2 separate regions of the Homo sapiens genome follow, and region 1 is linked to region 2. Evidence: fine-mapped expression QTL. A gene starts in region 2. The other region holds a variant in brackets. All regions are shown on one strand. Distances are between the middles of the regions. Region 1 overlaps TEX11 (testis expressed 11). Region 2 holds the start of SLC7A3 (solute carrier family 7 member 3).

Region 1 (4,388 bases), 100 kb after region 2:
TGTATGTCTTCCTTAGATAAATATCTATTCAGGTCTTTTGCCCATTTTTTCATTGGGTTATTTGTTTATTTGCTATTGCAGTGTTTGAGTTCCTTGTATATTTTGGAGATTAACTCTTTATCAGACGTGTGATTTGTGGATATTTTCTCCTATTCTGTAGGTTGTCTCTTCACTCTGTTGATTGTTTCCTTTGCTGTGCAGAGCATTTTGGTTTGGTGCAATCTCATTTGCCTATTTTTGCTTTTGTCACCTGTGGGGGTCATATCCAAAAAAATCATTGACCAGGGGTCTATCTCTCTCTTTCCCTCTAATAATTGCTTTATATATCTGAGTGCTCCAGTGTTGGGTGCATGTGTATGTAAAATTGTTATAGCCTCTTGCTGAATTTTCCCCTTTATCCTTATATAGTGACCTTTTTTTCTCTCTCCTTAAAGTTTTTGTCTTGAAATCCATTTTGTCTGATATAAGTATAGGTACTCCTGCTCTTTCGTGGTTTCCGTTGTCATGGAATATCTTTTTCCATCCGTTTATTTTCAATCTGTGTGTATCTTCATAGGGGAAATGTGTTTCTTATAGGCAAGAGATCATTGGGTCTTGTTTTTTTTTAATCCATTCAGCCACTCTATGTCCTTTGATTGGAGAGTTTAGTCTATTTACATTCAGTGTTATTACTGATAAGTAAAGACTTACTCCTGCCACTTTGTTATTTGTTTTCTGATTGTTTTTGGTTTTCTATTTTTTATTCTATTATATTTCTTTCTTTCCTGTCTTCCTTTTAGTGAAGGCGATTTTCACTGGTGGTATGATTTAATTTCTTCCTTTTTATTTTTTTATTTTCGTTGTTTTTCAGTTTCAGGTTACCGTGAGCCTTGCAAATGCTATCTTATAATCCATTATTTTAAATTGATGACAGTGTAACACTGATTGTATTAACAAAGAGCCAAACACACACATACACACACACACACACACAAACTAATAAAAACTCTACACTTTAACTTTGTTCCCCTGATTAACTTTTTTTGTTTTTCTTTATGTCTTATGGTACTGTCCATGTTTTGAAAAGTTGTTGTGGTTATTATTTCTGTTTGGTTCATCATTTATTCTTTCTACTTAAGTCAAGAGAAGTTTACACCCCACAATTTCAGTGTGATACCATTCTGTCTTTTTCTGTGTGCTTACTGTTTTTTTTTTTTTTTTTTTTTGAGACGGAATGTTGCTCTGTCACCCAGGCTGGAGTGCAGTGGCATGATCTTGGCTCACTGCAACATCCGCCTCCTGGGTTCAAGTAATTCTCCTGCCTCAGCCTCCCAAGTAGCTGGAACTACAGGTGCATGCCACCACACCCGGATAATTTTTGTATTTTTAGTAGAGACGGGGTTTCACCATATTGGTCAGGCTGGTCTCGAACTCCTGACCTCAGGCGATCCACCTGCCTCGGCCTCCCAAAGTGCTGGGATTACAGGCATGAGCCACTGTTTCCAGCTGTCCAGCCTTGTGCTTACTATTACCCATGAGTTTTGTACCTTCAGGTGATTTCTTCTTGCTCATTAACATCCTTTTCTTTCAGATTGAACAACTCCCTTTAGCATTTCTTGTAGGACAGGTCTGGTGTTCATGAAATCCCTCAGCTTTTGTTTGTCTGGGAAAGTCTTTATTTCTCCCTCATGTTTGAAGGATACTTTCTGCTGGATATACTATCCTAGGGTAAACATTTTTTTTTCTCCTTCAGCACTTTAAATATGTCATGCCTCTCTTTCCTGGCCTGTAAAGTTTCTGCTGATAAGTTGGCTGCCAGATGTATTGAAGTTCGATTGTATGTGATTTTTTTTCTTCTCTTTTACTGTTTTTGGGATTCTTTCTTTATCCTTGACCTTTGGGAGTTTGATTATTAAATGCCTTGAGGTGTTCTTCTTTGGGTTAAATCTGCTTAGTGTTCTATAACCTTCTTATACTTGAATGTTGATATCTTTCTCCAGGTTTGGGATATTCTCTGATATTATCTCTTCGAATAAACTTCTTACCCATAGCTCTTTCCCTACCTCCTCTTTAAGGCCAATGGATCTTAGATTTACCCTTTTGAGGCTATTTTCTAGATCATGTAGGTATGCTTCATGCTTTTTTATTTTTTTTCTTTTGTCTCCTCTGATTGTGTATTTTCAAATAGCCTGTCTTGAAGCTCACTAGTTTTCTTCTGCTTGATCAATTCTGCTGCTAAGAGACTGATGCATTCTTAAGCATGTCAATTGCATTTTCAACTCCAGCATTTCTGCTTGATTCTTTTAAATTATTTCAGTCTCTTTGTTAAATTTATCTGATAGAATTCTGAATTCCTTCTTTGTGTTATTTCAAATTTCTTGCAGTTTCTTCAAAATAGCTATTTTGAATTTTCTGTCCGAAAAGTCACATATCTCTGTTTCTGCAGAACTGGTCCCTGGTGCCATATTTAATTCATTTGGTGAAGTCATGTTTTCCTGGATGGTGTTGATGCTTGTAGATATTCATCGGTGTCTGGGCATTGAAGAGTTAGGTATTTATTGTAGTCTTCTCAATCTAGGCTTGCTCATGCCAGTCCTTCTTGGGAAGGCCTTCCAGTTATTCAAAGAGACTTGGACCCCAAGCCTAATAATGCTGTGTTTCTTGTAGACCCATAAAGGGTACTCCTTGATGACCTTGGATAACATCTGAAAGAATTCTCTGGATTACCAGGCAGAAACTCTTGTTCTTTACCCTTACTTTCTCTGAAAC[A/G]TATGGAGTCACTGTCTCTGTGTTGAGCTGGGGGTGTGGTGATGCAAGCACTGGGCCTGTGCTGTGTCAGACTTGAAGCCAGCACAGCACTGGACCTTGCCCAAGGAAGGCCCTTCCCTTTAGGATGGTGAGTTCCCCCACAACCCAGGTGTGTCCAAAGATGCTCTCTGGGAGCCAGGGATTGGAGTCAGAAACTTGAGCAATTTACCTGTTTTATTCTACTGCAGTTAAGCTGGCACTCAAATCACAATACAAAGCCCTTCCCACTCTTCCCTCCCTTTCCACAGGCAGAGGAGTCTCTCCCTGTGGCCGCCACCATCAGTGGTCCATGGGGTGTTCTGCTAGGCCACCACTGATGTTCACATAAAACCCAAGGTCTCTTCCATCAGCTTGTGGTGAATGCTGCCAGGCCTGGGACTCACCCTTCAGGGCAGTGGGCTCTCCTGTGGCCCAGGACGAGAAATACTGTCCAAGAGGCTACACCTGGATTTGGGGACCCCAAGAGCCAAGCTGGTACCTAGAGTGCAGTACAAAGTCCTCTTTACTTTTCCTGGGCTTTTCTCAAACAAAAGGAGTCTTTCACTGGAGCCACCACAGCTGGGAATGTGCTGGGTGTCCCCTGAAGCCAGCACTTCTCAGAGCCCAAGGCCCATGGTGTACTCCCTGGGTCGTTAATGGTTATTCCAGGGTTATACCAAGGGTTCTTTAGTCAGCAGGTGATTAATCCTGCCAGGACTGGATCCTTTCCTTCAAGGCAGTGGGTTCCCTTTTGGCCCAGGATGTGTCTAGAAATGTGGTTTGAGAGCTAGGTCCTGGAATGGGGGCCTCACTACTCTGCCCAGTGCCCTGTCCTACTGTGGCTGAGCTGGTATCCAAGATGCTAGACAAAGTCCTCTTTACTCTTCCCTTCCCTCTACTTAGGCAGAAGGAAGGAGTCACTTTCATTGCTACGAGCTTTATTGCCTGGGGTTGGGGAAGGGATGGTGCAAGCCCTCCCTTTGCTGTGCCAGCTGTTGTCTCCCTAGGTCACGTGGCAAGTTCACTGGCTCTAAGCCCAGCCTTACACTAGGAGTTGCCTAGGAATTGCAGTCCTTGTGCCCTAGACTGCCACTCAAGTTTATGTAGGACCCCAGAGCACTTCAGCCCACAGTGACGAGGCTTGCCAAGAAACTCAAGTTCCCACCACTGGGATGAGGGTAATTCTCCTGTGGCTAAGGCTGGTCCAAACACTCCCTCTGTGCACAAGCGCTGGCTGAACCCAGCATGACTTTTTTCTCTACTGTGACTGTGCAGCACTGAGTTCAATGTAAAGTTCCCCAGCTGCTGTGCTCTTCCTCTGCAATGTGCACAGATTCTCTCTCTGCACTGCATAGCTGCTGCCAGGGAAGCGGGGAGGGGTGGCCTTGGAGATTGAAGACTGTTTATCCTGCCCTCTTCAATGCCTCTTTCCACAATATGTAGTTAAAACCGGGTACTGTGAGTGTTCACCTGGTTTTGGTTCTTGTGATTGTGCTTTTCTGTGTGCAGACAGTTGTTAAAATTTGGTGTTCCAGTGGAGGGTACAAACAATGCAGGCTTTTATTCCATGATCTTGCCCCACCCTTATTTTAGCTTTTTTTTTTTTTTTGACAAGGAGTTTC
Region 2 (4,388 bases):
GACTGTATACTAAATCCTATTGAATTGTACTCTTTAAAAGACTGGATTTCATGGCATTTGGATTTTATCTCTGTGATAAATAATCAATCTCATAATCCAATCAATCACCTAATCTAAGCAACCAGATCATATACACTAATATATCGTTCCAAATATGTATCAAGTTTTTCTTGAGTACTTTCCATGTGCCAGGCAGGAAGACTTGACTTCATAATCTCATCTAAGCATCACAACAACCTTGTGAAATATGTATATTATGTCCAGAAACTGAGGCTCAGGGATGTTAGGTAATCCACAGTGGCTGAGCTGTGAGTTTAACCTAGGTGCAATTCCAAACACAGCACTCCTAACGTCTATGTAATAAGGTTTCAGTTGTATAGTGTGTGTTTTCTTTCCCTAGTTAGATTAGGACTAGGAGGGCAAGGATTTTATTTTATGTTTCCTTCATAGTCTCTTCATTGCTGTACCAGCTACTACACATAGTGCTCAATAAATGCTCAATAAATACTTAATGAATGCCAAATGGAGCTGCAGCTGGTTGAAAATACCAATTCTTTCAGAACGGATTTAGATTTTAGATTCATGGGTAATATATTCATCATGGATCATTAAAAGAAGCAAGGATATTTGAGTCCATCCTTAGTCCCCAAGATGTCTTGGTGGAGCAGGGACCACACTTTCACAACCTTTGGTGCTTTCTTATGAGTAAGAATTGATTGGGTCAGATGGATTATGGATCTGACCCAATGTGATCATTCGTAGATTCTTCGGGTCCTTTTCTGTTTCCTAGTATCTCCTAGCCTAAACGGACCTACCCTGCTGCTGATGCCTCTCCCTGTTTGTCTTTCCTTGTGGCCACATCCCTCTTCTTGTTCATTTGAATAAGATATGGTGCCTACGGGAGGCAGGCATTGAAGTCCAACAGGCCAGGTTTTATCAAAGGTGGTCAACAATAATTATGGTGTGGTGTCAAACAAGTCATGCCTCTGAGCCTCAGCTTACACATCAATAAAATGGAACTAAACAAGCTTCCTCCTCCAAGATGTTGGTATTGTCAGAATTTCACATTTAATAGTTTAATATTTATAGGCAGCTGGAGACACATTATAGAGAGATTGGGGCCTATAAATCAATTTAGACTGGATTAATTATCTGTATACAGGTGGCTTGAAATCATCTTCCATTCTCCTGCTGCCTGCATTAGAAACACCCACAGCTGAGCGTGAGAGCTGAAGGGTCAGGGTCAGATGTGTAGACAAGAAAGCTAAGGAAGAAAGACTGAGAGTGAGGTGGAGACTCCCCTGCTGTGTTCCGCTTCACTCCTGACACACACACACACACACACACACACACACACACACACACGCACCCAACTCCCCCCCATCACACCCCACCTACCTTCCCCATTCCTGCCCAGAATCACTGGTCCTAACAGGGCACAGAGGTGGAAAATCTCATGGGTTCTTTGGCCAGGAAGCCTCTTATTGTCCTGTTCTGACGACCAGCGAGACAAATGGGAAAAGACTGCCCTCCCCCTTTTCTCGCTCCCCGGCACGCCAGGCTTGCTAGTGAGGATGGGACGCAGTCTCAGGCCCCACGCAATCCTTTTGCAAAGCCAAGAAGTGTGTGTGTTGTGTGTGTGTGTGTGTGTGTGTGTGTGTGTGTGTGTGTGTATTGTGTGTAGCGAGGAGGATTGGGGGTGGGATCCCATGACGTTACCGGCTCCGCCTCCTGGTGTATATAAGGGGCGCTTGGCGCGCAACGACCCCAAGCCGCAGCTTTGAAGCCTGAGCGGCCGAACTCGGCAGCTCCAACCCAACTCGGCTTAACTCCGCCTCACCGAGCCCAGTCCAAGACTCTGTGCTCCCTAGGTTTGCAACAGCTCTCTGGTAAGCGTTGGGGACCCACACGTGTGTCGGAGGGGGGACGGCGAGGGTCCGGGCGTACCTAGGATTCTCTGGCAACCATGGCATGCAGTTGCATCAACGGGGCCGTGACCTGTTGCTGGCGAGACCCCCGCCCCGGGAGTTAGGGCTCCCGTCTCCACCCCAGCTCCAAACCATTTCTAGATGGGGGCAGGAAAATCTGGGACCTGAGTCGGGGGGCATCGGGTGGAACCCTTCCTCTCTGCTGAGAGGAGAGTGCGAGCAATCTCGGGCTGCCCTGGGGCCCCTCTGGGGGCGCATCTCCAAATCTTTAGATGTCGAAGCCCCGCCTCGCTGTTGATGCTTGCAGGTCAGCCTAGCAGGGCTTGGGAGGAAGTAGGGGAACATTTGCTTACTCCCCTGGGCGACAGCTGCGCTAGTTGAGCAGTGTGGGCTTGGTGAGGAGGGATGGAATTGAGTCGGTGCTCACTTTTAATCTGCAGCGAGGTTGGTCCCCTCTCCCTCTGGGGGGTCTGGGGGCTGTGTCTGTTTGAAGCCCCGGGGGAAGCCCCTGGGTGGAGCTCTGTTTAATTCCCAAATAGCCACAGGCCAAGGAACTGACACATTAGGTTTCAAGATTCCTGGGTTGAGATTAGGATAAACCCTATCAGTTTCTGGCAAGAGAAAGAGACCTAATATTGATTGAGCACTTACTAGGCGCCAGCCACTCTACTTCAGGGGGCTTTCACGTGCCATTTCTGAAATTAGCCCTTCCAAAAACCTTGTAAGGTATTGTAATTCCTACTTGTTTATGAAGAAACTGAGGTTAGAGGTAAAGTGACTTGCCTTTGTCCCTTCCATATCCCCGTCCTCATTTCCCAATAGCTCCTTTGCTTGGTGGAGGGGGTCTTGTAATTCGCTTTCAGAGTTTAGGGATAATGAGCCCTGTCGAGGGGTTTTTGTCTTGTTTTTCACCAGATCATCTTCTTCAATTCCTGCTAGGATGCCGTGGCAAGCATTTCGCAGATTTGGTCAAAAGCTGGTACGCAGACGTACACTGGAGTCAGGCATGGCTGAGACTCGCCTTGCCAGATGCCTAAGCACCCTGGATTTAGTGGCCCTGGGTGTGGGCAGCACATTGGGTGCAGGCGTGTATGTCCTAGCTGGCGAGGTGGCCAAAGATAAAGCAGGGCCATCCATTGTGATCTGCTTTTTGGTGGCTGCCCTGTCTTCTGTGTTGGCTGGGCTGTGCTATGCGGAGTTTGGTGCCCGGGTTCCCCGTTCTGGTTCGGCATATCTCTACAGCTATGTCACTGTGGGTGAACTCTGGGCCTTCACCACTGGCTGGAACCTCATCCTCTCCTATGTCATTGGTGAGATATGGTGGGGGAGGGAGGGAACTGCACAGCCAGCAAAGGGGTTTTTGGTCAGGAAATCTGGGTGGAAGTATTCTTTATATTATTCACAGGACCTCAATCTCCCTAAATGTGCGGGTTTGCTGGGGGTCTGGGGGGGGGTGTTGAAGGTGTGGAGAAATTGCTCATTCTATCCATCTCCGTCCTGGTTTCCTTAATTAAGTGAATGGTTTTGGTTCTTAAAAAGTAATAATAGGCCAGGTGCAGTGGCTCACGCCTATAATCCCAACACTTTGGGAAGCCGAGGCAGACAGATCACCTGAGGTCAGGAGTTCAAGACCAGCCTGGCCAACCTGGTGAAACCCTGTCTCTACTAAAAATACAAAAGTTAGCCGCGCAGGGTGGCTTACACCTGTAGTCCCAACTACTCAGGAGGTTGAGGCAGGAGAATCTCTTGAACCTAGGAGGCAGAGGTTGCAGGGAGAGGAGATTGTGCCACTGCACTCCATCCTGGGTGACAGAGTGAGACTTGGTCTCAAAACAAAACAAAAGTAAGAATAGGTGAAAAAGGCAGGGACTTGTGTGAGCCTGGGGTCTGGGAAGAAGGGAACTTGGCCACATGTTTCTCTCTCTGCTACACCAGGTACAGCCAGTGTGGCCCGGGCCTGGAGCTCTGCTTTTGACAACCTGATTGGGAACCACATCTCTAAGACTCTGCAGGGGTCCATTGCACTGCACGTGCCCCATGTCCTTGCAGAATATCCAGATTTCTTTGCTTTGGGCCTCGTGTTGCTGCTCACTGGTGAGGCAAAGAGCAGGGTATAATGGTGGGGGTTGGGCCAGGAGGGGCTAGTCCTTGGGGCCAGGGATAAGGATGGGGGATGGGCCTGAGAAAGGCTTAAGGGAGGTGATAATGGTGGGGAAGAAGAAAAGCTGGGAAGGAACCTAGAGGCAGGGAAACAAAGCTTGGACTGAAGACTTTCTGGGAGTCCTGAATGCATTTCTCCCACAGGATTGTTGGCTCTCGGGGCTAGTGAGTCGGCCCTGGTTACCAAAGTGTTCACAGGCGTGAACCTTTTGGTTCTTGGGTTCGTCATGATCTCTGGCTTCGTTAAGGGGGACGTGCACAACTGGAAGCTCACAGAAGAGGACTACGAATTGGCCATGG

What was found. PIP is the estimated chance that this variant, and not a neighbour inherited with it, causes the effect.
Region 1: its variant is the best candidate, but not a certain one, in a credible set for the expression of SLC7A3 in whole blood (TOPMed, PIP 0.86).

Annotation. Positions count from the first base shown.
Region 1 is chrX:70,826,299-70,830,686 of GRCh38, reverse strand. All of the region lies in intron 8 of TEX11 (testis expressed 11), which reads left to right. Among named protein-coding and RNA genes, the nearest start is that of SNORD3E, 18 kb to the left of the region's middle. The variant A/G (reference allele first, on the strand shown) is at 2,749.
Region 2 is chrX:70,928,478-70,932,865 of GRCh38, reverse strand. It overlaps SLC7A3 (solute carrier family 7 member 3), which reads left to right and starts at 1,770. Exons shown (of 12, transcript NM_032803.6): 1 at 1,770-1,889; 2 at 2,844-3,238; 3 at 3,864-4,022; 4 at 4,233-4,388. The coding sequence starts at 2,869. RefSeq lists an enhancer at 2,026-2,527.